Linked DNA regions of Homo sapiens: all the other regions are linked to region 1. The links come from fine-mapping of genetic effects on gene expression. A gene starts in region 1. Each other region holds a variant in brackets. All regions are shown on one strand. Distances are between the middles of the regions. Region 1 holds the start of SLC7A8 (solute carrier family 7 member 8). Region 2 overlaps SLC7A8 (solute carrier family 7 member 8). Region 3 overlaps CEBPE (CCAAT enhancer binding protein epsilon). Region 4 overlaps SLC7A8 (solute carrier family 7 member 8). Region 5 overlaps SLC7A8 (solute carrier family 7 member 8).

Evidence for each region. PIP is the estimated chance that this variant, and not a neighbour inherited with it, causes the effect.
Region 2: its variant is the best candidate, but not a certain one, in a credible set for the expression of SLC7A8 in lung (TOPMed, PIP 0.62).
Region 3: its variant is the best candidate, but not a certain one, in a credible set for the expression of SLC7A8 in whole blood (INTERVAL, PIP 0.88).
Region 4: its variant is the best candidate, but not a certain one, in a credible set for the expression of SLC7A8 in T cells (TOPMed, PIP 0.76).
Region 5: its variant is the best candidate, but not a certain one, in a credible set for the expression of SLC7A8 in monocytes after interferon gamma (Fairfax 2014, PIP 0.88).

What each region holds. Positions count from the first base shown.
Region 1 is chr14:23,181,060-23,186,882 of GRCh38, forward strand. It overlaps SLC7A8 (solute carrier family 7 member 8), which reads right to left and starts at 2,601. Exons shown (of 11, transcript NM_012244.4): 1 at 1,705-2,601. The coding sequence starts at 1,855. It also overlaps a transcript of RNF212B not described here.
Region 2 is chr14:23,128,288-23,134,110 of GRCh38, forward strand. It overlaps SLC7A8 (solute carrier family 7 member 8), which reads right to left. Exons shown (of 11, transcript NM_012244.4): 8 at 3,174-3,270; 9 at 1,363-1,512. Among named protein-coding and RNA genes, the nearest start is that of CEBPE, 12 kb to the left of the region's middle. The variant G/T (reference allele first, on the strand shown) is at 3,166.
Region 3 is chr14:23,113,143-23,118,965 of GRCh38, forward strand. CEBPE (CCAAT enhancer binding protein epsilon) reads right to left here. Exons shown (of 2, transcript NM_001805.4): 1 at 5,440-5,823; 2 at 4,164-4,680. The coding sequence ends at 4,345. Among named protein-coding and RNA genes, the nearest start is that of CEBPE, 3.2 kb to the right of the region's middle. RefSeq lists enhancers at 740-1,458, 1,624-2,823. The variant C/T (reference allele first, on the strand shown) is at 2,982.
Region 4 is chr14:23,160,132-23,165,954 of GRCh38, forward strand. It overlaps SLC7A8 (solute carrier family 7 member 8), which reads right to left. Exons shown (of 11, transcript NM_012244.4): 3 at 5,154-5,305. Among named protein-coding and RNA genes, the nearest start is that of SLC7A8, 21 kb to the right of the region's middle. The variant A/G (reference allele first, on the strand shown) is at 2,864.
Region 5 is chr14:23,152,234-23,158,056 of GRCh38, forward strand. The region is part of intron 3 of SLC7A8 (solute carrier family 7 member 8); the gene reads right to left. It also overlaps the pseudogene RNU6-1138P. Among named protein-coding and RNA genes, the nearest start is that of SLC7A8, 29 kb to the right of the region's middle. The variant C/T (reference allele first, on the strand shown) is at 3,141.

The DNA of each region.
Region 1 (5,823 bases):
GAAGGGCGAGCCAGGCTGAGGCAGGAAGGATGTTTAATTGTGCTTGTGTGCCTGTGGGCGTGCGCATCTGTGTATAAGTCAGAACCTTCCTAGAGGGGGAAAATGCTTAATTCTGTCAGTCAAATTGGTGAACGGGCTATTTATAGACCTTAAACTGGCATGTGCTATACATACTGAATACTTGGCTGTTCTCATTTCTTTTGAACAATTGAGATAAAGTAAAGGAGAGGCAAAAAAAATGTCATGAGAAAAAGTAAAGAGAGATTCAGATCATGACTACAATTTTTCTTATAACATTATCTTTCTTATAACTGTAGATGGCCTGGAAAACTTCCCAGAGTCAGGGAATCACATAAAATAGGATTCCAGGGTGTAGGAGGAGTTGGTGGGGGTGGGGGGGGGATGGGATTTCATTTTAGAGACTGAAGAGAGCTTGGTCACTGAAGTTCTGGGTGTAGAGGTGAAGAGGATTATCTGAATACTGCACTGATTTTATTTGATTTCAAGAGTGCTCTCCAGTGTCACTATTGCTCAGATGCCAAAATATCTCTGAGCTATTGCATAGAACATGGCGTCAGCCAGAGAAACTGGTTCAGGGGCACCAGGACACAACGAGCTCTCATAAAGGAACTCTGGAGAGATGACAAAGAAGCATATCTATGCCTGACCGTCCTGCACTCCTTTTTCTGGGAAGAAAGTAAAGCCCCCTACCAAAGATAGCAGAACAATCTCTCACTCTGAAGTGAGGGCAGGAATAGTGAGCTATTGCCTGCCATCCATCTCCAAGGCTTCTCTGGAAAGAGGATGTGCTGTCTAGAGACGAAGCTGTATTTGGGACTCCTGCCCTGCAAAGTACATTCAGGGGGTTTGAGTGGCCTGCACTGGCACTCTTGGGGCCACCCAGGTTCCCCACCTTCAGCACCTCCCAGCTAGGACACATATTTTACCCATCAGTTCCTCCTCAACTCCATATTCTACACATTCTAGTTACTCCTGATTCCCTCTGAGAGCTTCACCGGGTCCTCCGTGGCTGTTAAGAAACAGGTGGACCCCACCAGGCAACTGGAGAAACTGCAAACTCTCCACTTACCGAGAGGCACAATCTGTCCCCTCTTTTCTTCCATAACTTCCCCATCTGTGAAATGGGAATAACAGCCCTGTCACAGCTACTTCACACAGTAAAAGTGCTGCATAAGGTGGAAAACGCTAAAATAAAAAGGCAGGGCATTGCTCTTGCTATTTTTAATACCTATCCCATAGTTTCATTTAACATAAAACTGCAAAATAGCTACCAAATATACCTTAAAAGCCCATCCCCAGCCTGGGAATAATAGCTGCATACAAACTTGTTCAGGTCCCTCAGTCCCTCCTTAAACCTATTGAACTAGAACCTCCAAGTGTCGAGACCAGGACCTGTATTTTTAAGGAGTTCCCAGGCAATGCTAATCATCAGCCGGGTTTCTGACCACGATTTGCTCCATTCTATGAACACTGGGCAGAATCTTTGCCTGGTTTGGAGGAAGAGATGTATGATGTATTTCCTATGCCTCTCAAACTTGACCAGTGGAGGTGAGTTACAGCTCAGGTGACTGACAATCCTTTTCTAAGGAATAGGAAGAACAATAATGCTTTCGAAGGGTTAAGATCTCACAGGAGGACCACCAGAGGGGAGAGGAGGGGTCCGCGGGAAGGAATGGAACTCACCTACGATGATACCACAGGCACTGACCAATCCGATCTCTTTCTTCAGGGCTACTCCGCCCCCTCCGGAACCAGCCTCGGGGCTGGCGTCCGACTCGCCCCCACCTGGGTGTTTCTTTTCGGTGTTGTTTCGGTGCCTGGCTCCTTCTTCCATCCTTCTCAGTAGGATTGCAACCTCAAAAGCTGCCTCCCTTTCTAAATGCGTATTCGTGTAAATATATTGGGAGAGAGCTTTGAATTAGAACGTCCTTTTCCGAAATAGGAACCACTGCTACTCTCTAAAAAAGGCAAGCAGATAAAAGAGAACACGAAAAATATTCCTACTCCGCATTCACACTTTCTGGTCACTCGCGTTTACAAACAAGAAAAGTGTTGCTAAAAAAAAAAAAAAAAAAAAAGGCCAGGGGAGACATACATTTAAATATAAAAATAGAACTGTGCCAGCGACTCCGGCTGGAATTCTGCTGAAAGGGATGTGTCTTCAGAAACCAGGATGGTTCTGCTCTGTGCACCAGGCAGTGGCTTATTCAGAAAGTGAGCCTGGATTTCCCTTCACCTCTCCCCCTAATAAAACAGGAGACTGCCTTTACCTCCCCTTAGTTTTTTCTTTTATGATGAAGACAAAAGTAGTTTTCATTAACGGTAGGAAAAAAGAGCAATCCTCAGGTACTTTCTTCTCTTCTAGAAAAACAAACTGTGAACCTGACGGTGTTGCTCTAGATCTGGTTTCCACCTGCTTTGGGTTTCTTTTCCCTTCCCCGTCTTCTGCTTCCGCCTTTCCCAGGTGTCCTCTTCTTTCTCGCTGGTCTTCGTGCCCTTGTTTTCCTCTTTTCGATCCCCGTTCTACTGCACAGCCGGCCCCATCCCTCTGGTTTCGGGAGAGTGGCTTCTCCACACACTAACGTGCTTCTCTTTAGCGAGGGGTTTTATTCGCCCGCCGAGGCTCCGCCCCTGCCTCCTCTGCTCCCCTCCATCCTCAGTCCCGTCTCCTCCCTCCTCTGCAATTTAAGTATTAGCACAAAGCCCCCAAACAGCACTGAGAAAATGGACTAAGTTATTTCTTTTTGCAATCGTCTCTCGCTTTCTCCATCTTTCTCCTTGCAACCAAGTGGAAGTAAACTCCTTCCACGTCAACTGTTCCGGGAGAGCTCATTAGCTAGTATAATGTTACAGGTCATACAGCATCTGTGAGCTTTATAAATCAGGGAACAGTTGTGCCGATACTTTTAATGCCATCAGAAATAAACTAGCCAATGTATTAAAAAATATTTAGGACTGGATCCTGTATTTGAGAATACAGGAGAGAACGTTGAAAGGACATCATCTTCGAGTTTCCTAAAAATAGGGGGAATCGACGGGTGGGGGAGGGAAATGGAAGGAATTAACAATGGGAAAAAGGTTCTTTTAGCGTAATTGTGAGCTACGAAGAGTACAGAGGAAACAAAATCGCCAGGCGCGGTGGCTCACGCCTGTAATCCCAGCGCTTTGGGAGGCTGACAGGGGAGGATCACGTGAGCCCAGGAGTCTGAGACCAGCCTGTGCAACAGAGCGAGACCCCGTCTACTAAAAATTTTAAAATTAGCCGGGTGCAGTGGTGCAGGCCTGTAGTCTTAGCTACTCAGGAGGCTGAGGCTGGAGGATTGCTTGAGCTCAGGAGGTCAAGGCTGCAGTGAGCTATGATGACGCCACTGCACTCCAGCCTGGGAGGTAGAGCAAGACCCTGTCTCAAAAACAAAACAAAACAAAAAGCCAGAAAAACCACATGCACATACAAAAAGATAAAAAACAAAATCACCAGGTAGCCTTGTTGTTCACAGCTCTTATTTAGGACTGGCTGAAACATGAAAAAAAATGACTCAAACCCTGATCCTGCAACTTCTAATATTTTTGCATTTATAAACTATTTGAAAAGCACACATGGGGAATTATCAGTATATCGCTGATCATGAAACATACTTGTTGATGTTAGAATAACTAGCTTATTACCATATCGAAATGATGCCTCCACTTTCTTGAAGAATTTCACTCAGAAACTGCTGCCTTAAGGTGAGAGCAACAATGTCTATTTATAATTGTAAATTATTTCGAAAAAACAGCATGAAGCAATATAGTGGACAACACTATAAGTCTAAAATAAAGTTATTTTTAGCCTTATTAAATATATTATGCAAAATTATTTAATTTTAAAGTGGGCCTAAAAAATTAAGTTCCCCCAAACTGACCCCTAACTACAAAAATTTGGCCTCACTTTCTGGAAAATGTTCCAAAAGATTTTGGGTTTTAAGGAAAATAAATACTTAATTCCTTAAAATGAGGTTTGTTGAGCTATCATAGCAAAAGCTTTTTCAAATGGGGTAAAGTCCAATCAGCAGTCATCTGCCCCCTTGATCACTCAGCAAGTATTAAGAGGTTTCAAAGGTTGGGAGGAACTTCCTCTCCTCCTTTTGCTAGTTCAAGACACAGCAAATTGAAAGACTCAGCAAAAAAAAAACAACAAACAACAACAAAAAAAACCAGACAAGGCAGGGAATATATAGCACGAAACTCCATGGGAGGGAATGAGTCATGGGAAATGAAAAAATGTCGAATTTGCCTCTAGCCTTTCCTGACAACCTTAGAAAGCACTGAGGAAAAATTTGATAGATTCATTTGTATACATTCAGATTTGAAGACTTCTGCTCCGATTTCAACATCACCATATAAAACAAATAATGTTTCTGCTTCTTAAACGTGAGTTCTTTCAGTAATATTTGGTAGTTCTAATTTATATGATGCAGACTTAATGTGGGATAAAACATGAATGTGATGAATTTGAGGTCTCTTGCTAAAACCAGTGCAAACTGATAACGATATGGTAAGCTTTAGCCCTCTCAAATTATGAACTAAGAAGCTAAGGGGGTTATGGGATCAAATACGTTCTTGGAATACAGCGGTACTAGGTGCACACGTTGGAAAGGAAGAGTTGCTGAAGATTAGTATTTCTATTTCTTTAGCACTTGGAATTTATAAGTGGCTTATTACCATTGATTACTGGTGCGATGTAATATCTAGGAAAGGGGCTGGGCACGGTGGCTCATGCCTGTAATTCCAGCACTTTGGGAGGCCGAAGCAGGTGGAGTGCTTGAACTCAGGAGTTCAAGACCAGACTGGGCAATGTGGTGAAACCCCATCTCTACAAAAAATACAAAAATTAGCTGGGTGTGGTGGCTCACGCCTGTAATCCCAGCTACTCAGGAGGCTGAGGTGGGAGGATCGTGTGAGCCATGGAGGTTGAGGCTGCAATGAGCCAAGATCGCACCACTGCACTCCAGCCTGGGTGGCAAAGTGAGACCCTGTCTTTAAAAAAACCAAACCAAAACAAACAAACAAACAAAGCTAGGAAAGGAATCTCCCCACTTTCAAAGGGAGCATTATTTATATTAAGTGCCTCTCTGTAGGTTGGAATCTTTTTGTGACATAAACTCTTAAGTGTGTCAAAATTCCAGGTGACTAACATTGAACACAAGAGAGAAAGAAAAGCCTTGGTGTAATATGTTGACAAAAATCTGTAAAAAATTACAAACTAATGTTTATTAAATTTTGAGCATTTTTTTTTTTTTTGAGAAGGAGTCTCGCTCTGCTGCTCTGGCCGGACTGCAGTGGTGCGATCTCGGCTCTCGGCTCACTGCAACCTCTGGCTCCTAGGTTCAAGTGATTCTCCTGCCTCAGCCTCCTAAGTAGCTGGGATTACAGGCACCTGCCACCATGCCTGGCTAATTTTTGTGTTTTTAGTAGAGACGGGGTTTCACCCTGTTGGTTAGGCTCGTCTTGAACTCCTAACCTTGTGATCCACCCGCCTCGGCCTCCCAAAGTGCTGGGATTACTCTATTCTGCATTTGCCTTTATATTTTTATTCTATTCTCTACGTTTAAATAGTGCTTTATAGCCCACAAATGGTTTTCTGAACAATATCTCAATTTTTTTCCTCCTCATGTAGTATCTTGGGCAGACGAGGCAGTTATCTTAAAGATTTTAAAAATTAGAAACCTGAGGCTTAAAGAAATATTTTACCTGAGGTAAAAAACAAGACAGTCTATTTGAGGGCAAATGGGAGATTGATAGTTTACACTGAGCACTTTTTCA
Region 2 (5,823 bases), 53 kb before region 1:
AGAGACACATCCTCAAGGGCAAAGGCTGGGCTTCCCTCGGCTCTGTGGTCCCACACTCACCCCTGGTAGGGCAGGGGCTATATAAACAAATGTTGATGAACATGGTCGGTCAGACAGGAAGAGGATGGGGAGGAGTTAGGGAGGAAACGATCCTCCTTGCCCATGTCCTCGCTCTTGGGTGTGGTTAGACAAGGCCTCATCATGCATGCCATGTGCCCGTGGCAGCCAGAGAAGCCCACAGGGATGGAGAAGCTTGCTGGCACATGGGTGTGTCTGCTGAGGTCCTAGGGTGGAGGGGAGGTGTGGCAATGCACAAGGTGCAGGCAGGAGACGATTCGAGTCACTCAGGCTCCCTGGTCCTTGCCCACTTCTGTGCAGGGCCCTTATGTGGGCACAATATGGCAAATGTCAGCTCCTTATGGGCCACATGTGGGGAGTTCCTGAGAGTATCCTCTTCAGGGCTCCAGGGGCAGTCCTGATTCGGCTGCCTTTCTCTTCCTTGTCTTCCTCGCTCAGAAGGGATGTGTGTGGTGGGGACATGGGGTTATTCTACCTCCTCTTCCCTCTAGCAGATTTTCTAAGTGTGAGAGTAGAAAATGGCGGTGGAAATGCCAGTGAGGAACTGAGAGATTTGGAGAGCCTTTGATTTTTCAGCTGGAAGGATCTTCTAGAAGCATCTAGTCACTGTTTCTAGAATAGGATTGTTCAAATAGCTCTGGAGTACACTCTATTCTTCTAATTCGTAGGAGAACTCATAATGCTCTAGCATGTCCTGTTCTGAGCAATCCCTTTAATTCCTATCACAGAGTTATATCTTGTAGCAATATTAGGTTCACTGAGCACCCTATATGTGTAGGACTGTGGGAGTTTATAAAGGGAGGATCATGGGAGGTTGCAGTAGACTGGAAGACTTCAAGAAAGAGGAGGTACTTGAGGCGCATTTGGAAAATGGTTAAAATGTAGATGGGCAGATGGGAGGAGGAAGTCATTCTGGGATGGAGACATAGCACATAGTGAACCCAGCTATCTGGAGGGACAAGGAGGAAGTGTTGGGGAGATAAGAGAACCTTGAAAAGTCAGCTGGAGTTTAAGGCTTAGACTGGTAGGAAACAAAGGAATGTCATGATGAAAGTCACATTTGATCTGACTTATTCCCCAGCTGCAGTCTGCTCCGATCTCATCCCCAGTGGAGAATGGAAATAGTGGTCCCATTCACAAATGGCCCTTGCTTTCCAAAGGGTCTGCTACCATCAGAGATGATGACGTGTGGTCAGCAGCTAAGAACAGAGGTGATTTAAAAATCTGAACTGCAGCTAGAACCATAGAGGAAGGGGAGGGGACCCCAAAGGGAGTTTCTCTCACCTTGATGGGGCGGGGGATATCAGGCTTCTTCCAGCGAAGGACTATCTGTCCAGCAACCGTGACCCCATAGAAGAGGTAGTTGATGAAGCCCACATAGTTGATGAGTGTGTACATGTCGCTGGTGACCAGCATCAGCAGGGTGGAGATGCACTGGGAAAGTGGGAGGAGCTCATCAGTGATCCGAAAGATATTCAGAGACTGGTATTACAGATTAGGGGCTGTCCCCCAGCCTCCAGGCAGATGATGCCATCGTATAATGGATGTCTCGAAATGGAGACTTTAGAACCTCCCCTAGTAACCCAATATGTTACAACATCTTTATTGCTAGGAAATCCTTTCTTATTACAGGGGTGATGATCAAAATATTTAACCACTCGTATGGCACGGGCACTAGCCAATTAGAATGGATACTGGACATAAGCAGCTAGACTGGCCACACTGGTATTACCTGGCTCTGTGTCAGCCCCGGTCTCATTTGTATGCCTCTGTTGGTTATAGCTCAAGCTAAATTCATTTTTTTAAAATCCCTTAGGGAAGATTGTTAACAACAGATTAAGGCTGTATTCCTGCCCTCATCCTTTTCTCCTGGCTGAGTCATCTATTTTTCTTCCTTCCTTTTCTTTATTAATTTCAAAACTGGTTACATAGCACTTACTGTGTGCCAGGTCTCTATGTTTAGCATTTGACAAAGATTAACTCACTTAACCCTCATAACATCCCTATGAGGTTTTCTTGACAGAGTCTACTTTCCAACTTCAAAATCATCTCTGTGGCTCTCTTGGAACCATGCTCCTCCCCTCTGATAACTTGTGAAGGTCAACAAAAGGTTCTGTTCTCTTGTGAGATCCGATGGTTAAAATAATCGAGAAGATTTTAATGGTTCTTGCTACATCTGCCTTTTAGTCACACTACTGCACCAATAGCTCTAACTGGAAAAAACAAAACAAAACAAAACAAAAAAATGTGTGTGGCCCACTGGGAGTACTGTCTTCTCCAGCCACCTTCGACAACCAACCAGTCAAGGTGACCTTCATCCTGCATCTGAACATTCTGAAATTGTACAGCAATGCTGTAAAATGCTCTTGGCTCCCAAGAGCTCTGTTATTCTGATTGCTAACTGCTTCACCAGTGGACCAAAGTCATTTTTAGTGTTTTATTCAGGATCCAGAAGGAAAATAAAAATAACTCAAAAGACTCAATGGGGACAAGTCTTTGTTCCTTCCTATAGCTCTCTCAAAATGATTCTACTCTGGGGATATTTTACTCCCATCTCTTTCCTGTCCCAAGTTTCCTTTGCACAGTTTCCAGTTTATCAGTCTTCCTCTATTATTTTTCGTATTTGGTGTACTGTTAACACTAACTTCATTTCAATGATGTTTCCCAAGAGACTGGCAGGCTGCCCTGAAGCTTGATGGGGGAAGTGGGTGTTTGCAGGGACCAACCAGCCAGGAGCAGAGGCCAGTGCTGCAACCCTGTGGTAACAGGTGCGAGGAGAGCCAAGGGAGATATATTTTTTTTGAGGCTGTAGAATCCTGAGACAGTCAGTTCAGTCTGACCCAAAAGGATGGGAGAACGGAAATAAGTCAGCCTGAGAGCCTTAGGTATTTCAAGACTCAGGATCTTTCCTTGCTATATCTCTTGATATTAACAAAGATGATGGGTATCATTTGCCAGATCCTCTAAGATCCAGTGAGACCTAGCAGCAGACTGCAAGGGTAACAGGGGTGTGTGTGAAAAGCATGAACTCCCAGCTTAGACTAGGCACAAAGAGAGGGAGGTGTGTGGAGAGTTACAGCAGGAAGG[G/T]CCCTTACTGTGAAGAGCAGGGCTGGGATTGGGGTGCAGCGCTTCACGTGGATCATGGCCAACACACTGGGAAGGTGGCCCTCTCGGGCTCCAGCGAAGAACAGCCTGTCAGGGAGAAAAGCAGGTCAGCCTGGGATAACCCAGGGACCACCAAGCCCCAGCTCCTTCATCCTTGCCTACCTTCTGCCCACACAGGGGCATCCCCACTCCAACCAGGCACCCGCCTTCACATGCATACTTTCCACCCCACCAGTCACAGAACCTGTGTTCACAAATGCAGGTGCAAGCAAACCAGAGGCAGCCAGTGGAAAAGTGGATGAACCCTGGGTATGTTAGACCCTGAATGTGGTATGGGTGGCTCAGGGTTACTGATAATTGTACTGTCACTCAGTGGGGTGTTCCCAATGCCTGGAAGGCTGCAGGAGCAGCCTCTGTCTGTTGCCTAAAATCTTCATCTCTTTAAAAGCATTCCTCACATCCTCAAAGGATGCAGATTCCCTAATACACTGGGACTGAACTGCATATGGAAAGCTTTAAAAACACTCTATTTTTTTTTTTTTTTTTTTTTTTGAGATGGAGTCTGACTCTGTCGCCCAGGCTGGAGTGCAGTGCTGCAATCTCGGCTCACTGCAACCTCCGCCTCCCAGGTTTAAGCAATTCTCTGCCTCAGCCTCCCGAGAAGGTGGGATTACAGGTGTGTGCCACCATGCCCAGCTAATTTTTGTATTTTCAGTAGAGACGGGGTTTCACCATCTTGGCCAGGCTGGTCTTGAACTGCTGACCTCGTGATCCACTTGCCTCGGCCTCCCAAAGTGCTGGGACTACAGGCGTGAGCCACCGCGCCTGGCCTAAAAACACTCTTGTCCTAGTCAGAGAGTAGTTAGTTGTCTTTGTGGGAGTAGGGAATTGGTGGTGGAAATGTTCTCTATCTTGTTTTGGGTAGTGGTTGAATTTTGACAACTGTCAAAATTCATCAAATGGAAGCCAGGCACAGTGGCACACACCTATATTTCTAGCTACTTGGGAGGCTGAAGCAGGAAGATTGCTTGAGCCCAGAAGTTCAAAGCCAGCCTAGGCAACATAGTGAGACTCTGCCTCTAAAAAACAACAATAAAAAACAAAAATGAACAAACACAAACAAAAAAACCCCCACAAAACTCATCAAAATGAACATTTATGATCTGCTTTTTTTTTTTTTTTGAGACGGAGTTTCACTCTTGTTGCCCAGGCTGGAGTGCAATAGCACGATCTTGGTTCACCGCAACCTCCGCCTCCCAGGTTCAAGCGATTCTTCTGCCTCAGCCTCCCGAGTAGCTGGGATTACAGGCATGCGCCACCACACCCAGCTAATTTTTGTATTTTTGGTGGAGACGGGGTTTCTCCATGTTGGTCAGGCTGGTCTCGAACTCCCGACCTCAGGTGATCTGCCCGCCTCGGCCTCCCAAAGTACTGGGATTACAGGCATGAGCCACTATGCCCAGCCTATGATCTGCTTTTTAAAAAAAAAATTGAGGCAGGGTCTTGCCATGTTGCCCAGGCTGGTCTCGAACTGGGCTCTAATGATCCTCCCACCTCGGGCTCCCAAAGCGTTGGGATGACAGGCATGAGCCACCACGCCCAGCCTGCATATTTTATTGTATGTAAATTGTACTTAAAAATTTATATCCTGTCTTGTGGGATTGAGTTTAAAAAAATTATATCCTGTCTGGGCACGGTGGGTAACACCTGCAATCCCAGCACTTTGGCAGGCTGAGGCGGGAGAATCATTTGAGCCCGGAAGTTTGAGGCCAGTCTGGGCAAAATAGTGGACCCTTGTCTCTACAAAAAATAAAAATAAAATTAGCCAGGTGTGGTGGCATGTGCCTGTTGTTCTAATTACTCGGGAGGCTGAGGTGACAGGATCACATGAGCCTGGGAGGCTGAGGCTGCAGTGAGCTGTGATTGTGCCATTGCACTCCACCCTAGGCAACAGAGCAAGAACCTGTCTCAAAAAAAAAAAAAAAAAAAAAGAGAAAGAAAAAATTGGAAATATCGTAAGTGCCTAAAAGTAAGAGGTCGATAAAATGAATTTGGCATAAGATGAAATGTTATGGGCTAGGCACAGTGGCTCATGCCTGTAATCCCAGCTCTTTGGGAGGCTGAGGTGGGTGAATCACCTGAGGTCAGGAGTTTGAGACCAGCCTGGCCAACATGGGGAAACCTCGTCTCTACTAAAAATACAAAAATTAGCCAGATGTGGTGGCACGTGCCTATAATCCCAGCTACTTGGAAGGTTGAGGCAGAATTGCCTGAACCCGGAAGGTGGAGGTTGCAGTGAGCAGAGATCATGCCCTTGCACTCCAACCTGGATGACAGAGTGAAACTCTGTCTCAAAGAAAAAAAAAAGGGAACATTATGTAGTCATAATGTTTTTGAAAAAATTTGATTACATGAGAATATGCTCAAAATATAACATCAAATGAAAAAACAGGACTGAAAACTATAATGCAAATAATTTTTTTTTTTTGAGACATGGTCTTGCTCTGTTGCCCAGGCTGGAGTGCAGTAGCACGATGATGGCTCACTGTAGCCTTGACCTCCCAAACTCAAATGATCCTCCTGTCTCAGTCTTCCAAGTAGCTGGGACTACAGGTGTGCACCACCACACCCAAATGCCAA
Region 3 (5,823 bases), 68 kb before region 1:
GGATGGATCCATTCTATGTGTGGCTTGCCTCTACCTACCCCTAGAACCCTGTTTCTTCTAAAAGGGAAGCAAATCTAAGGGAAAAATCTAGTCTGTCCCTGGACCTAAAATAAATACATAAATAAATAAATAATAAAAGAGAAGCAAGAGGCTACAGCTCTGTGGTGGGTCTTTCCCTATCAAGAAGCCTGCCCCTTCCCAGGCCCTGGGACCTTTCCATTGCTCTCTGAAGTCAGAATTGATGGCCATTTTGATAAAGTTAAGTTGTAGCCATTTTCCTCTGAAAACCCACACCCTCTCCCCTTGGGGAGAATTTCTCATATGCCACTGAGGTTTTCTGAGGCCAGGCCAGGCCTGCTTATGGAAGCAGCTGACAGAGGTCAGCCAGGGGTTCTGTCCAGCTTGGGCCACTCCCATTTTGGAGCAGCTCATGCTGAGTCGGGAGGAGGGGTCTGTCTGCGGGGGGTGGGGGGTGCTGGTGAGGGTGATGGGAAGTGACTGGCCTGTCCGAGAGGAGACGCACAGGCTCTCAGCCAGCCCTGCCTATTGTTGCCTCAGCGTCTCCTGAACAGCCCCCTTCATCCCATAGTCCCCTCACTGGCTTGGAGCACGGCAGGGGGTGGAGGTGAAGAGGCCCCTTTCCACCCACAACCCCAACCGGGATCTTGCAACACTGGGATGGGGGCCCTGGGGGCCCAGGCATGTGGCAATCTGTGTAGAGGGGTGGGGAGGTGTGCACCGAGCAGGGGGGTTGGGGGCAGCTTTCACAAGCCACTGCCTCCGCTGACTGACCTTGGCAGACTCACCTTGGGCAGCTTCCTCCCTCTGCAGTGTCTCCCCACAGTCTGTCTTCTCCTCTGCAGCTTCCCTGTGGCCTAAGATCCTGTCTCTCAGCTCAGGAGTCTCATTCTGCTCCCCAGTTCTGCTCCAGAAAGAAAAGTGGGCCTGAGCTGTGGGCGCTGAAGCAATAGGACTGCATGCGTGTGCTGTTTGGACCTTGATTTGCTGGTTTTCAAACGTTATCGAGTCCCCGGTCCTGGTGCCTTTCCCCAGGCAGGGTTTGGCTAACTGCCCTTCCCTGGGCTCCTTTCTGTCATCTCCTTCCCCAGTGGGGACAACCTTACTGTGGTAAAGGTGCCAGGAGGACCAAGGGGCAGGGAAGCTGAATCCAGGGGCAGAGAGAACCCTGCTCTCCACCTGCCCCGGCTTCTTAGGCACCATCCTCCTTGACAGAGGGAATGAAAATAGTCATTTGCAACCCCTGCAGCCCCATTCTGGAGGGAAGGTGCATCTTTTTCTTACTTATCCTCTCCTTCCTTCTTTCATTCAGCATCTACTCCTGGCTTCCTTTCTCTCGGTCACCTTAGGGCTTTTGCATTTACCCTTCCCTCTGTTCACCCTTACACTCAAAGACATACCTGCCTCCTTCTCAAAATTTTTGAAGTGTCAACTAAAATGTCACTTCCTCAGAGATACCTTTCTCGGCCACCCCAGCTAAAATAGCCTCCCTACCTGTTGGTTTATGTGGTTTCCCCAATGGGCTATTCAAATGGAGTAAGCAGGAGAAGTTAATTAAGGTGCTTTATGAAGATGTGAACCAACAGTATCTGGGGAAAGTTCCTGGAGTGGTGAAGTCCCCTGGGCTAGCCCAGCACGGGGGGCGCCTGAGGGCCAGGAATCCTTTGGGAGGGACTGTGGAGAGCGCCGGTCAGCAGGGGGCTCCCACCACTCTCCTCCTGCCAGTCTCACCCCCACCCCATGAGAGGCTGGTTGATGTAGGGAGGCATCCACCTGGGGACTGTGTAGGGTGATGAAGGGTGGAGAGGGTTCTGGAGGGGCAAAGGAAGACATTCAGCACACTTGTTTATTGACTTTTTCTTCCTACTCCTTCTGCTGAGAACTTGTCTCATTCCTAGAAAAGATACTCAACAAATACTTGTTGAATAAGTTACGTTGGCCAAAACCAATTGAGGTCAGATTGAAAGCCTCTTTCAGGAAGTGTGCCCTCTGGCTCTGACTCACACCCCTGGAATATGATCTGATGCAGAGGATTGGGATGTGTTCAGCTGCTGCACGTCACGCTGGGATCACAGTGGGGAGACGGGGATGTGACTCCCCCAGACTGGGTGCCAGTCAGGAAGGCTCCACTAGGCACCGGCCCTGAGGACCTGACTGGGTGAGCGGGGGCCTGAGAGGAGAAGCAATTCAGAGCTGTGGGAACAAAGCCTGGGCTTCATGCTGAAGCAACCCAGGTCCCATCACCCAGAACCTTGAAAGTAAGTCAAGGGACAGTGGTCTTGAGCTGAGAGGAGGAAATCCGGAGGTTGAGTCATTTACCATGTTCTGTACAAACCCCCCTTATGCAACCTATCCCCCTGGGCTGAAAGGAAGGTGTGAGGATTCTCCCAGGTGCCCACAGAGACTGGTACCTCCCCTCCTTCTGAACTCAGGAAGCTCCAGTCGGTCCCTCCACTGAAGGTTCAGATCTCTCCCTCCAAACCAGACCTGGGGCACGGGCCTCCAGGACACAGAGGTGCCCGAGAGACACAGAGGCAAAGGCAGGAAAAGGACTGAGTCCTGGGCAAGGTAGACATGCCGCACACGGATGCCCGAGGTGTGGGAGGGCTCTACCGCTGGAGATTTGAAGAAGGGAGAGAGATCTGGGATGATCCAGACACCAGTCTCTCACCTTCTCAGAAAATTATTCCTTGATGTCTGACTCAGCCTTTCACAGCATTGGCTTAGGAGAGACTTTAAGAAGCCCGTAATCTGTCCCTGGGTCCCTGACACTGTTGGGCACTGTTCTTTATTGAATGTGATTCATGTGACACTCGTACTGAGGATCTGTGAGAAGAGTGTAGCGTGGAGTAGAGAGACAGGTACCACGTACTGAGGCAGCAAAGGGACTCAGTGAGTGTCAGGAGAAGCCTCTTACCCCTCTGGCCCTCAACTGCTTTATCTGTAAAATGTGGCTCACCCTA[C/T]CTTGCTGGTCTGAGGGCAGAGCCCACCAGATGATCTCTTGAGGTCTCTCCCAGCACATCTTGAGATCTGCGATTTTACAGAGCCAATTTTGGTTCTACCTCTAAACAATCGTGTGACTCCAGGTAAGTCCCTTCCCCTCTTTGCAGCCTGTTTTCTTACCTGCAAAATGAGTTTAGATGAGATCTCTGAGGTCCTTTCAGTTCCAGCAAAATGGAGGAATCATAATAAATATGCTTATTACATGCAAAGTTTTCTTTTTCTATGAATATAACAACACTACGGAGTGGGGACAAATATTGCAACCATTTTGCAGATGAGGAAACTGAGGCACAGAAAGACATAATGGCTCAAGGCTCACAGCTAGTAAGTAGCAGTGTAAGATTCAAACTGAGGCTCTTAATTATTGTACCATTCTGTCTCTTAGGCTGTAGTCCAATGCAAAAGAAAATGCTGTTTCGAATGATGGGTTTCCCTGGCACGGGCAGATTGTCATCCTCCTTCTCACTACCAGTGTTCTCATACACAAATCCGGTCTCCAGGTCTTTCCCAACCGATTCCTGTCCCATGCACTCAATTCTCAAGCTTTAGGGAACTGGAGCCTCAGGGATGAGGGACAAAGGATGGAAATGAATGGGTGGGAGCAGCGTGGGGAGGGTGTCCATCTGGTAGACTGAGGCTTTGGAAATGGAGAGAAGAGATGGCGGGCTGGATCAAGGGACCATAAATATGGCAGAGCCATCAGGAATTTTCCCATGGTCACCTGGGGCAGGAGCTCCCAGACCTATACCTCAAGGTGAGAGAGAGTGGGCCTGGGATCAGCAGGCCTGGGCATGAAGGACTGTGTGGTGCCGGGATCTCCCTACAAGCTGAAGATCTTTGTTAGCAGAGCATACAAAGGTGCTCCAGGTCCTGTGGGGGGCGGGGATGTGCCTTCAGCTCACAGAAGGGGGTGATGGGGGATGTCAGGGAGAGAAGAGCAGAGTGACAGATACACGGCCTGGCTGTGTGGTATATTGGGGGTGGGCTGTGGACAGCATGTCTGTGTTTCCACATGTCCACTTGGTCATGGAAACAAGAGGTGCAGACCTAGCCACATGCATCCTCTGTCCCCAGGGTCCTCCATGACACACACACACACACACACACACACACACACACACACACAGCCAACAGTCCCAACACCCAGTCACAGTGCAACTTTATTCAGCCATATAATCATTATGCTGGGTCCTGCCCTCTTTGCCACCCCGGTTGCCATTTATCCATGGTCTATGTCTCAGGGTTCTAGGCCCCCAGCAGGATGGGGGTCCGCAGAGTTAGGCCGTGCCAGGGAGCCTGGTGCCCACAATCCACCAGCCAGCCTCAGCTGCAACCCCCCACGCCCTTGATGAGGTTGGCCGCCTCAGGAATCTGGCGGAAGAGGTTGCGGAGGGTGTCTAGCTCCTGGGTGAGCTGCTCCACGCGGCTGCGGAGGCGCTCGTTCTCTGCCATGTACTCCAGCACCTTCTGCTGCGTCTCCAGAATGCGCCTCTTGGCCTTGTCTCGGCTCTTGCGCACGGCGATGTTGTTGCGCTCCCGCCTCAGCCGGTACTCAAGGCTATCTTTGTTCACTGCCTTCTTGCCCTTGTGTAAGGGGCCAGCCGGGGAGGGCGCCTTCAGGAGGGGACTGCAGGGGGGTGCGGCAGTGGCCAAAGGGGCCTGGAGGGGAAGGCACGGAGAGACGGAGAGGTGAGGGCTGGCCAGGAGGCAGAGCGGAGGCGGGGCGGGAATCTCGGCAGCCAGGGCACACTTGATGCGTCAAAGGAATACAGGACTCAGAGCCAGCTCCTGTCTCTCAGGTCAAAACTATCATCGCTCTGCTTCTGGGAGATGGTGACCCAGATGCACAGGGTCCTCTGCTTGAGACCAAAACTCCCTTTCATGTTCTCACACTTTCTTTCTTTCTTTTTTTGTAAAGATGGAGCCTTGCTATGTTGTCCAGGCTGGTCTCCAACCCCTGGCCTTAAGCGAACCTCCTGCTTTGGCCTCCCAAAGCGCTGGGATTACAGGCATGAGCCACGACACCCAGCCAATGCTCTCACACTTTCTGAGTACACTTTCCCTCAATCTGCCTTGAGTCTCCCGTTCTATGACCAGTAGACATTTCTCACAGAAGCAGGCGGCAGAGAAACAAGAGGAGGGGGCATGGTGAGCAGCAGAGAGGCTGGCGGTGGGGGCCTGAGATCAAGTAGGTCAGCTTGCCACAGGGGCTTTGGGTGGGGATTCAGGGTGGGAATGAATTCACAGAGAAGGAAAGGGAGGTCATGGTGGGGTGTGAACACAGAGGACTGTGGGTTGGGTCCATTTCACAGAGCGACACCAAGCACAGGCTCAGCAGCATGAGCCGGGGCACAGGGTCCTGTCCACACCAGCCTCTCCAGCCCCGGGCAGGAGGGAGGAGGGCTGGCCTGCTCTTACCTTGAGAACGCGCAGAGGCTGGCCGGGTGCTGCCAGAGTTGGGGGCAGGTGCATGGCTGTCTGCCCACAGTGTGCCACTTGGTACTGCAGGGGATTGTAGCTGCCTCGGCTGGCAGCTCGGCTGCCCTCTGGCCCCCGGGGCTCCTCCTTCACCGCCACAGCCCTGGGGTCGTAGCTCCCTGGGCTGCTGTAGATGCCAGGCCCCAGCGCCTTCCTGTCTGGGCCGAAGGTATGTGGAGGGTAGGCAAAGGGCCGAGGGTCAGGCGGCAAGTAGTGGGGGAAGGCAGGGGTTCCGGGGCCCTTGAGGCCTCTGGCCTCAGGCGCTGGCTTCACGGCAAAGAGATCGGAGAGAAGCTGCTCTTCCCCAGACTCGATGTAGGCGGA
Region 4 (5,823 bases), 21 kb before region 1:
GAAAATGCAGAGTTGCACAGATGCACAGATGGAAGCCTGGGAAAGGGTGTCCCCTGGACCCAGTGCTTCCTCTGGATCATTGTGGATGCTTTGTTTACAACTAGAGACCCAGGTAACAGCCAAAAGATGTGGCTACAGGATAAAACGGCAAGCTGTAGGCCGGGTGGGGGTGGCTCACAGCTGTAATCCCAGCACTTTGGGAGGCCAAGGCGGGTGGATCACGAGGTCAGGAGATCGAGACCATTCTGGCTAACAAGGTGAAACGCTGTCTGTACTAAAAACACAAAAAATTAGCCGGACGTGGTGGCGGGCGCCTATAGTCCCAGCTACTCGGGAGGCTGAGGCAGGAGAATGGCGTGAACCCGGGAGGCAGAGCTTGCAGTGAGCCGAGATCGCGCCACTGCACTCCAGCCTGGGTGACGGAGGGAGACTCCGTCTTAAAAAAAAAAAAAAAAAAGGGCACGCTGTAGGAATAACCTGTCAGTACATAGGTCCATGCAGCCAGAGTTGTACAGTAATAGATGCACTTTATTTAGAACTATCCACTAGGACTGCAGCTACTGGCCAGCGGCTGATGATAAGGGCGGCTATCGCTGCTGGCTCTATATCTTACTTGGATCTTTTATATGGGGAATATAGTCATTTACTCATGAAATAATACAAAAGGAGAAAAACACACAAGCAGATCACAAAAGGTATCAAAACCAAGTTCTAACACTTCCCAGTCCCCTCCTAACTCCCTCCACTCCCACTAATATACTTGTTCTGGAGAAGAGAGAAAGGCTTTTTATTTAATTAAAATGTAAAATACTTTCTCTCTCTCTCTCTCTTTTTTTTCTTTTCTTTTTTTACTGCTGGGTGGCTAGGGATATTCTGCTGACTCAGCAGTGAGTAATCAGCTTTGACCTAAATAATAGAATAACTCGAAGTGGCAGCTGCAGTTGCATAAGTGTGATCCAAGTCTGCAGTTCCTTCCCTCTCCCTCTCCTCTCCCCGACCCGCTCAGGATCCGGCAGGCAAGCCAGTTTCAGCAGGTTCTTTCCACCTCTCCACCCCCACCACCTGGCTCCTCCCAACTTCATTTCTCATCAGTTCTCCTCCAAAACAGCCCCACCATGGAACCAGACTTGGCCTCATCTCCTCCCTCCCCCAGCAAACCCTCGCCACGGGCTTTACCACACAGGCTCTCCCTGCTGGGCCCTGTGCCCTGTCCTCCAGTGCCCTCCATTATACACCAATGACCTCTCCACAGAGGGTGGCCTTTCCTCAAAACCTCTCGCTTCACAGTCATCAGCATGTCGCCACAGGACAGCAGGAAGCAGAGTTCCCCATGTGCATATGTTTACGCCACACCGGAACTCTCTACTGCGTCTCTCAAAAGAGACACAGGCTGGGCTTATTTTATGTAGCTGGCTTGCCTGGCCCCTGCTAAGAGGATGAGGAGGGCTGGATGATGGTGGGGGTAGGTGGGTGGGTGGGAGGGGTGCTGGAATAAAAAGTACCAGCATTTAATGAAAGATAGCGTCTACCAGTCGGGCGCAGTGGCCTCACTTTGGGAGGCTGAGGCGGGTGGATCACTTGAGGTCAGGAGTTTGAGACCAGTCTGACCAACTTGGGGAAACCCCATCTCTACTAAAAATACAAAATTAGCTGGGCATGGTGGCTTATGCCTGTAATCCCAGCAACCTGGAAGGCTGAGGCAGGAGAATCGCTTGAACCCGGGAGGCGGAGGTTGCAGTGAGCCAAGATGGCGCCACTACACTCCAGCCTGGGTGACAGAGTGAGACTCCATCTAAAAAAAAAAAAAAAAAAAGCATCTACCAAGCCTTCCTGACAGCTTGGTTCTTGTTTTACTGAATACCGTATGAGAGGATTGGATGCTTATCTGGTATGGCCTGCCATAAAATTCAAAAAAAGAAGAGAGGATTTGAGGGGCCTATAGAAGTGGATTAAAAAAAAAAAGTATTCAACAAACCGGAAAACAGAACCTCTGTACACAGACTCAAAGCAGCTGGGAGTGTCAGGTATAAGGAAAGGGAGAGAGGAAGTTTGTTATAGCTAATGCATGTACGTGTGCACCCTGCCGGGCAGAGGGATGGCAGCTCCACATGGCCTTCACAGCTAGGAGGAAAGGGACACTGCAGCGGGACAGGTGTGGAGCTGGTTTCCATTTCCCCTAAAGGAAATAAGGAAGACTACGCTTGGGAATAAGAAGGATTTAAGATTTTTCTGCTTATGAAGGTAGACAAATATTTGAACCCATATTTCAAGGACATTGAAAATTCCTGTCTTTAGAGGACAAGATTGGCTACTGTTAAGTTGGAGATAATTTCCTTGCAGTTCTGCTGAGAAGGCAGAGGCCAAACTTAGATAAGCTTTATTGAATCTTTGACTACAGGAATAGAGGAGGGGGGTCTTGTCATTTTTGTCATCAGCCAGTTTCTAAATTTCTCCTTGGCTTGGTCCTTGCAGTGTCTAGGTGAGGGGAAGGCTGTGGAGAGGACTGTGCAACATGTCATTCTGGAGCAGGGCTACAGGCAGGTGGCGTTCTTATCTCCTAGGAGAGTTTGGACCTTTCTGGTCCGAGGGGACGCCAAAAAGGCTACACTACTTTGGAGGGTCTTTGTGCAAGAGGTCAAACCCTTGGCAGATTTGGGGAATGCAAAGAAAGCCATGGGGTCTGGCTGCCTGGGAACTTCTTCAACCTGTGGCCTGGCTCCTCTCCTAGGGTGCAAACTGAACAGCCTCGGGGGTTCTTGATTTCTAGTAGAAGGGTAAGGGTGGCCTCTTGTCTGAGACACTTTAGCAGCATCAGCAGGAAAAAGGAAGCTGTCTGTGTGCAAAGAAACACCAAAACAGCAGT[A/G]GCTAGCACTTCTGTGGCCTTGCCTCCCACCCTCCCATTAGCTGATCTGATGGCAGAAACAGCACTCTTCCTGCATTCCCACGCCCTCGCTCTTCCCCGCTCCCCATCTCAACTCTGGATCCAGCTAGGATGCAAGGATAAAGTGGCCCCAGCATCTTGCCCACCCCCAGTGACTGATATGACTGGGGTGCTGGGTGTCTAACACTGTGCTGAGGGTGTCCCCTTCCTTCTCTCTTGCAGTCCTTGTGACCACGACCTCTTGAGGCAGCTAGGATTACACTCCCCATCTCACAGTAGGGTGGACGAGTGATTTTGCCCAGCACTCACCACTGCAGTTAGAAATGGTGGACTGGAGATGCAGGCGCAGGCAGCCTGGTTTTGGAGCCTGCATTCCTCTGCCTCCAGATCTGTGAGCAGGCCTGATCAAACACAAGGAATACACCCCCAAACAAATGTCTTGGCCCCATATTGCAAATGGCCTGGGTGGTGGAGGTCTGTCCCAGGGTTGACCAGCACTGCCAAAGAGGGCTCACTTGCCAAGGAGACCGCCTCTTGGGTCCCAGCTGCCTGCCCTGTAAGAGGCTACTGAGGTGGGTGAGTGATCTCTTCCTCCCCCATCCCGTAACAGGACAGAAGGAAAAGTGTCAGGACCTGGGAAAGCATATGGCCAGGATGATCACTGCCCTCAGCTAAGTGTATGTGTGTTAGAAGCTATGGGAAGGCAGGGACCCAGTGAACCCTAGAGGTGGAGCCCCTGAAACATATCTAAGTATTTACTTTAGAAATTAGTTTTTGATTAAAGATGTAAAATACCCCAATCCATTGAGATGACTAATATCAGAGATAAAGCTTTGAGACTTCCTAGAAATACGGCTCTGCAGAACTTCTCTAGGAAGCCTCTCTAACCTATTCCAGCCCACAGAGATCTTTTCCCCTTCTCTGAATTTTATTGTTATTGTTGTTTTTAATTTCTTTTTTTTTTTTAGAGACAGGATCTCACTATGTTGCCCAGGCTGGAGTGCAGTGGCTATTCATAGGTGTAATCATAGCTCACTGTGGCCCAGAACTCCCAGGGTCAATCGACCCTCCTACCTCAGCCTCCCAGGTAGCTGGAACTACAGGTGTACACCACCATGCCTAGCTCCCTTCTCTGAATTTTTACTGCAATTGAATCCTAACCACAGTATCTGTCTATATGGCTTTTCTCCTAGTTAGAAAACTCATCAAGGGCAGGGATCATGGACAAACCCTTCTCCAAGAGAGTTAAAAGAGTGTGACTTGACAAGTTGAGGTAGAAGTAGATGTGGACCTACTGCCAAGAAGCCAGAGTAATCTTCCTAGGAGCAGCTGGGAGTAGCCAGCACAGTGCAGTGCACTGGACAGACAAGAAATCAGGAGCCCTTGCACTCCACGTGGCCTGCCTCCCTGGGCAAGTCATTTGCCTGGCTCTCTGTTTCCTTATCTGTTCTGGGAAAATGTTAACACTGGCCCAGCTTACCTCATGGACTTGTCATTAGGCCCAAATCAGATAATATAGGTGAAAGTGCTTTGCGTAATGTCAAGAACCCTGCCAGTGAAAATCATAGTGCCTCCAAGGAGCTACTTAAGTTTCTTTCTTTTTTTTTTTTTAACACCAGACAATTGTATGCAGAATCCATTCATAAAAAACACACTTGTAGGAAATTGAAAGAAAAGTAATGGGGAAAAGAAAAGGAGGCAGGGTGAGGTGGGTCAGGCCTGTAATCCCAGCACTTTGGGAGGCCAAGGCGGGCGGATCACTTGAGGTCAGGAGTTCAAAACCAGCCTGGCCAACAGGGTGAAACCCCATCTCTACAAAAAATACAAAAATTAGCCGGGCATGGTGGCTCACGCCTGCAATCCCAGCAACTCGGGAGTCTGAGGTGGGAGAATCACTTGAATCTGGGAGATGGAGGTTGCAGTGAGTGGAGATCACGCCACTGCACTCCAGCCTGGGTGACAGAGTGAGACCCTGCCTCAAAAAAAAAAAAATGGAGAGAAGTTAGGAGAGTCAGAGACATGTAGACCTCCAGGGAGGATAAAAGAGGCTGTCCCTCAGACTGGGTGCAGTGGCTCACACCTGTAACCACAACACTTTGGGAGGCCGAGGCAGGAGGATCACTTGAGCCCAGGAGTTCAAGGCTGCAGTGAGCTATGATCATGCGGCTGCGCTCCAGCCTGAGTGACAGAGTGAAGACTCTGTTTCTAAAAATAATAATAATAAATATAATAAAAGAGGCTGTCTTGCTACCAAGACCCAGATGACACTTACATAAGCAGATGGCAGCCAGGAGCCGAAGGCCAGACTCTGGGGGGAAGCAGGTGGGGAAGAGCGGCTGCAGCACGTAGTTGGAGAAGGTGAGGGCGATGACAGCCTGGTTGGTGGGGTAGATCACCAGCACAGCAATCCACAGCCTCAGGAACCTGAAGGAGGAAAGGGACATCCGCCGAAAGGCATGGCAGGGACGCAGAGCCATCAGGGGAGAGCCCGGGCAAGTCATGCATCTCTTTTTTATTTTCAAGGATGCTGAAGAGCCCAGCCTCTGCCCCCACCCACAAATGAGACACCCAGCCCTCTGCAGTGACAATAAAATGGTTTAATGAAGAGTTAAATTTCCACAAGCACTAACACAAGTCTTGGCGTTCTTCCTTTCTCTCCTCTCCTTTCATGATCTCTTCTCCATCACTGTGGCCACCAGCATCCAATGGTGGAAAAACAAAATTTGCAACCCCAGAATGTTGATAGACAGGACATACTAAGGGTGTGGTTACGTAAGCAATAATCAGGAGAGGTATCAAGTGGGGGTTTGCAGGGGAAGCGCCTTCCACACCTTTTGGCCCATTGGTGAGGGTTTACCAATGGCAGGGATGCAGAAATTGAGGAAATTTAAGATTAGGGCCCAGCTCTAGAGGGAGGCCATTATCCTTGGTAGTGTGAGAAG
Region 5 (5,823 bases), 29 kb before region 1:
GTCCTCCCACCTCAGCCTCCTGAGTAGCTGGGACCACAGGCATGTGCCACCACGCCCAGCTAATTTTTTGTATTTTTGGTAGAGATGGGGTTTCGCCATGTTGCCCAGGCTGGTCTTGAACTCCTGAGCTCTAGCAATCTGCCCACTTTGGCCTCTCAAAGTGCTGGGATTACAGGCATGAGCCACCAATGTTTTCTTTTTTTTGAGACAGGGTCTTACTCTGTCATCCAGGCTGGAGTGCAGTGGCATGATGATGGCTCACTGCAGTCTCAACCTCCCCAGACTCAGGTGATCCTCCCACCTCAGCCTCCTGAGTAGCTGAGGTGTGTGCCACCAGGCCCAGCTAATTTTTGTATTTTTTGTAGAGACGGGTTATGCCAGGTTGCCCAGGCTGGTCTCTAGAACTCCTGGGCTCAAGTGAGCCACCTGCCTTGGCCTCCCAAAGTGCTGCGATTACAGGCATGAGCCGCCACACCCGGTGATGTTTTCAGGTGCTCCCTTGCTTTGGATACAGGACTCTGGCTTCTCATTGAGCTGGGCCAGCAGGGGGTCATTTTGTGCCTCCCTCAGGGAGCCAATGAACATTCCCACATGGATCCCTGAACCAATCTCATTTCTTCTACTAAGCCAGCTGCCACTCGATGAGCCACACTATTCTGGTCTGACAGGGTAAAGGTTGGGATAGGGCCACCTGGATACGGGGCTGGATTGGTTGTTATAAGGACAGTGCTAAGAAGAATGAACCAGTTGGGACTCTCCTTGTAGTCAACTCTTGGCCCTAGAGGTAAATATTTGAAGCCTGCGCCCTACCACCCAAGGCTTGTGTCCAGCCTCATGGGTGATCAGAAGGCAGGAATGACCTTAGAGACCCAGAACCTCATTTTATTTTTCTTTTACAGATGGGAGTCTCATTCTGTCGCCCAGGCTGAAGTGCAGTGGCATGATCATAGCTCACTGCAGCTTCCCAGTCCTGGGCTTGAGCGATCTGCCTGACTCGGCTTCCCAAAGTGCTAGGATTACAGTTGTGAGCCACCATGGCGGCCCCAGAACCTCATTTTATATGTGAGTGAATTTAGACCCCAGCTAATTCGCAGCAAAGACCAGACTGGGACAGCCCAATTCCCAGTTGCTTGTTCTGCCTCTGCCCCGCCTTCCTTCATTATACACAGATCACTCTGCTTTCCCTTGGCCGCTCCCACATCATCTCTCCTCCTGCTTGGGTCAGTGGTACCCATGGTCACTACTGCCAGTGCCACTTGGGACTCTGGGTCTGTCACCAAGACACTGGTTAGCCCCAGCCTGGACTGCTTTCTGTGCAGCAGGAAGGAAGATGCCAATATGGCAAAAGGGGAAGACTTTCACAGTTATGCCTCAGAAACCAAGAAAGGTGCATCCATTGCTCCCAGGGCTTTAGAAAGTCATTTCCCACAGGGATCTCCACCTTGGGTCCCCTCCCACCAGCCCCCTTAATCAATGTCACAGTCACATGTTCCCTCCAAACTCCCGGAACTCCATTTGGATTTCTCGGTCTCGCTGGCTTGCACCTTTCTCAGGAGTGGACTGGACTGGCTTGGAAAGGCTTGGTTTTCCTTTAACATTTCCAGAACCAGGCCACTCCTCCTTGTCTGTTCAGATAAGTGAAAACAGGCAGTAGAAAGGGGGAAAAATGTCCAGACTTGCCAAAGTCCATAAAGACAGATGGTGAAGAAGAGAGGGAAAGAGCACAAGAAACCACAGGGCGGGAGAGAGCAAGGGGAGGACAATGCAGATGAGTGGGAGAGAAAAAGGGCTTGAGAGGAGCAGAACAGAGAGAGGCCAGGACTGAAAACAGCAAGATGGAATGTACTAAGCAGACGGTTGCTGAAAAAGGAAGCAGTGACGCCACTTTGTAGAAATCAGAACGCCCTGTTCCTCTCCAAACCTGCAAAACAGGCACCTTTCTGGATGGAGCTCCCCAGCCCTCTGAAACGCCATAAATTTCACCTGGGTCATGGCCTGCCAGAAGGGTTGGCTTCTCAGCCTCACCTTTTGCTGGGGCGTTCACTTCTCTGCCTTCTGCCACGCTCTGGCCAGCTCCCACAGACTCCCTCCCCTCCAGCTGGAGCAAAAGGGGTGAGGCATGTCCCTCCCAGCAGCCCTCTGGGTCTGGGTGCCCAGGCTGGAGGTTGGAGCCGCTGGGCAGGGAAGCCGGGCCTGTGGGGGCGTGGGTGTGGCTACGCTCGGCTCTGTGATTGGCTGCACCGAGTTCCTTGGCCGCCTCCCCCGCTTGTGGAAGGAACTGAGCACGTGTTTCTAATTGTGGAAAAGCCGCTTCGGCTTGGCCTGTCCAACCGCAGGCGTTTCCAGATCTAGGAGGTAAGCAGTGCCGGCTGCCAAAAGGCGCTGATAGGCAAAGAAAACACGGAGGCCTGTTTGACCTCTAACGCACACAACCCAAGGCTCTGATAAGGTTCCAGTTCTGCCCACGCAGGCCACACGGAACAGTCTTTCCTCGTCAAAGACCCAGAGAGGCCTGGAGGTGTGGGGGAGTGGGCAGACACGGATCCAGCTTCACAGAACCCTCCTAGAATCCTTCTCTATTCCCCGCCCACCCCCACCTCAAGACATTTTTTAGAGCGGGTGAGGGGCCCACATTATAAAGTCCTTCCGCACCTGGATTATTGTACATGTAACATAACTTGTCTGATAAAGTTATACATATAACTTGACTGGTGAAAGAGAAAAACGTTAAAAAAAAAAAACCCACAAAAAGCCACACAACAGACAAAAAAAAAAAAAAAAAAAAATCAAAGCAGCCCTTCCTCATAAACTGCGCTTTGATCCCAGCTTCTATAAAGTGCACAGTGGGGAGTGTGGTTTTGAAACAGATCTTGCCTATCGCACGATAGTAACATTTCCCCTTCTCCAGCCCTTTTCATCTCGAAGCACTTACAACGTTTTAGAAATCTCGGAACCCCCTCCAAAGGAGAGGAGGTGCTCTGAGCCTTCCGGAAGGGCCTCTCTCTTCCAAGGACACACCAGCAGAGGAGGAGGGTGCAGAGAAGCTGTGAGGGCTGTGAGTGCTCCTGGAGGCACACAGCTTTTACCAAACACTTCCAGCTAAGCTCCTGCCCATACTGCCCCATCCCCTCCCCTCCTCC[C/T]TTCCTGGCTCTCTCTTCCCCTTCCTTCTTATCCTGTTAGCTCCTGCGCCAGCTGCTGGAGCTGGGGTTTCTGCTGAATCACCACCCAGTATTTAGCTCAGCCAAGAGGCAGGAATACCCAGCTCAGCATTTTCCAAGAGCTGAGTAGTTCTCTCTTCAGCATGAGCTAAACATGGCTCCTCAGCTGGCCTGGATCGGGGAGAAGCGAAAAACTGGACACCAAGAAATCCAGGGTGGCCTGCCATGCCACCCTGGGGAACCCTATTTTAATCCTACTCATTACTTTTTCAGCCTGGGCCTGAAAAATTGCTATCTCACACACCAATTCTCAGGGCTGATGTCCCCCGAGACATGGAGCAAGGTGGATGAGAATGGGTTCTGTTGAGTCTGCACTGAGCCCAGGAGGGCTAGCCTGACCCTCCATCATATTTCAGTCTTGGAAGACAGGGTGTGGATCCTGTGAGGTTTAGTTGGTTCTTGGACCAGAAGGCTTGTAGGCTCTGTTGGTGTTCACTAAATTCTATAAACCTGGACCCAGGCTGCAAAATTCCCCCAAAACGGTTCAGTTATAACCCAATTCCAAGGGTAGCTTGTACTTAAACTTGCTGAACTCTTTTTTCTTTTCTTTTCTTTTTTTTTTTTGAGATGGAGTTTCGCTCTTGTTGCCCAGGCTGGAGTGCAATGGCACGATCTCGGCTCACCGCAACCTCTGCCTCCCGGGTTCAAGCGATTCTCCTGCCTCAGCCTCCCGAGTAGCTGGGATTACAGGCATATGTCACCACGCCCGGCTAATTTTGTATTTTTAGTAGAGACAGGGTTTCTCCACATTGGCCAGGCTGGTCTTGAACTCCCGACCTCAGGTGATCCGCCCTCCTCGGCCTCCCAAAGTGCTGGGATTACAGGAATGAGCCACTGCGCCCGGATATTTTTCTCTTTTTAATAAGGAACACTTTGTGAATTTGCATGTCATCTGTACATGGGGCCATGCTAATCTTCTCTGTACTGCTCCAATTTTAGTATATGTGCCGCTAAAGTGAGCACAACTTGCTGAACTCTTATAACAGAGATGCCCTTTTTTCTTTCCCCCAAAGCTCCAAGTACCACTGGGCCTCACTCCCATAAGCCTTCTGATTTTATGTTCTTAGGTATGTGATATAAATTTGGTGTGTCACATTAACCCTTAAAAGTTTACCAGACACAATTAATGGGTGACTTTATTTAAACCATGGGCCCTGGCTCCTCTGAGAAAAACAAAGTGATCCTTGACAGTCAGCAACAAAAGGCCAGAGAATTTAAGTTTCTAGGCTGGTACAAGAAAGTAGGCAAATCTCTACCACACCTGGTGGAAGCTGAACTCCAAAACAGTTTCCTGTTTCAGGAAACCTCAATCTCATTCACTGTTCTTCCAATCAGAAGTAGACATATTCCCAGAACAAGCCCCTCATTCCTCCATTTCCAGGGTGTGGGCACACACACTCTCTGAACAGCAGAACTTCTGTCTGAGAGTAGAAGCTGAAGAGCAGAAGAGACACTATGGGAATCAGGAAAGAGGAGGTGATCTGGGCCAGCAGTTGAAGCACATTGAAACGAAGAAGAAGGCTGACTTCTCAGGTAACTTACTTACTCTGCCATTGTAGACATAAGAGTCCAAAAGCACAGGGGATGCTTTCTCAAGTCCCAGCAAGTCTTAAGTGTTGAAGAGTGAGTAGAAAGGGTGACAAGGACAGAGGGGTCAACTTGACCAGTCTGAACCACACCAATTCAGATGATACAACAATACGTACAGACAATACGACCCAGTGTTGTCCTTGATTTACTTCACCTGTATCCCCAACAAGACCATGCAGTCCTTGACTCCTTCAACCTTAATCACCAAGGCCTACCAATTCTACCTCCTAAATGCCAAATGCATCTACTTTTCTCTACTCCCACTGCCCCAAGATGCACATGATAGTCATCTGCAATCTGAATCCTTACAACTGAATTGTAATCATCTTTTCTTGCCTCTGATCTTATTCCCCTCACCAATCCATCCTTTAGCTTTGCAGCATGACTCTCCTAAAATACAGATATGATCATGTCGGTCTTCTGTCTGAAACCCTTCAAACCTCATTCCTCCTAAGGGAAAGCCCAATCTCTTTATGGCCCATGAGGCTTTTCATGATGGGGTCCTTGCTTCTATTATATATTTCTTGCCTCCTAGTCTATGGTGTGGCTATACTGAACAACCTGTAGTTCCCACAAACAACTGTGATTTTTCCTGTCCTCAGACCTTGACACATGTTAATTCCTTCTGCTAGAACATTCTCCCCACCCCATTCTACTCCACCCTCCCTCCGTGCTGAATATTGCCTGACTATGTCCAACTGGTCTTTCAGTCTCAATTTACATGTCACTTTCTCCAAGAGCTTCTTCAACCCCAGTCCCATCCTCACTTTTCTTGCAGGAGCTGCCTGGATGCTGGCCTCCTGGGGAACTGGAACTCCAGTTTGAACTGAAATTCCCTGTATACTTGTCAGGAACATCCACTGGACTGTGGGTTCCTTGGTACAAAAACTAAGTATCCCCATGCCTGCCACAGTGCCTGGAGCAGAACAGACACTCAAATATTTAATAACGTATGACTGATTGTGTATTACCCGCGGCATCAATAGAGGACACACAGGTGGGTGTAGTATAATAT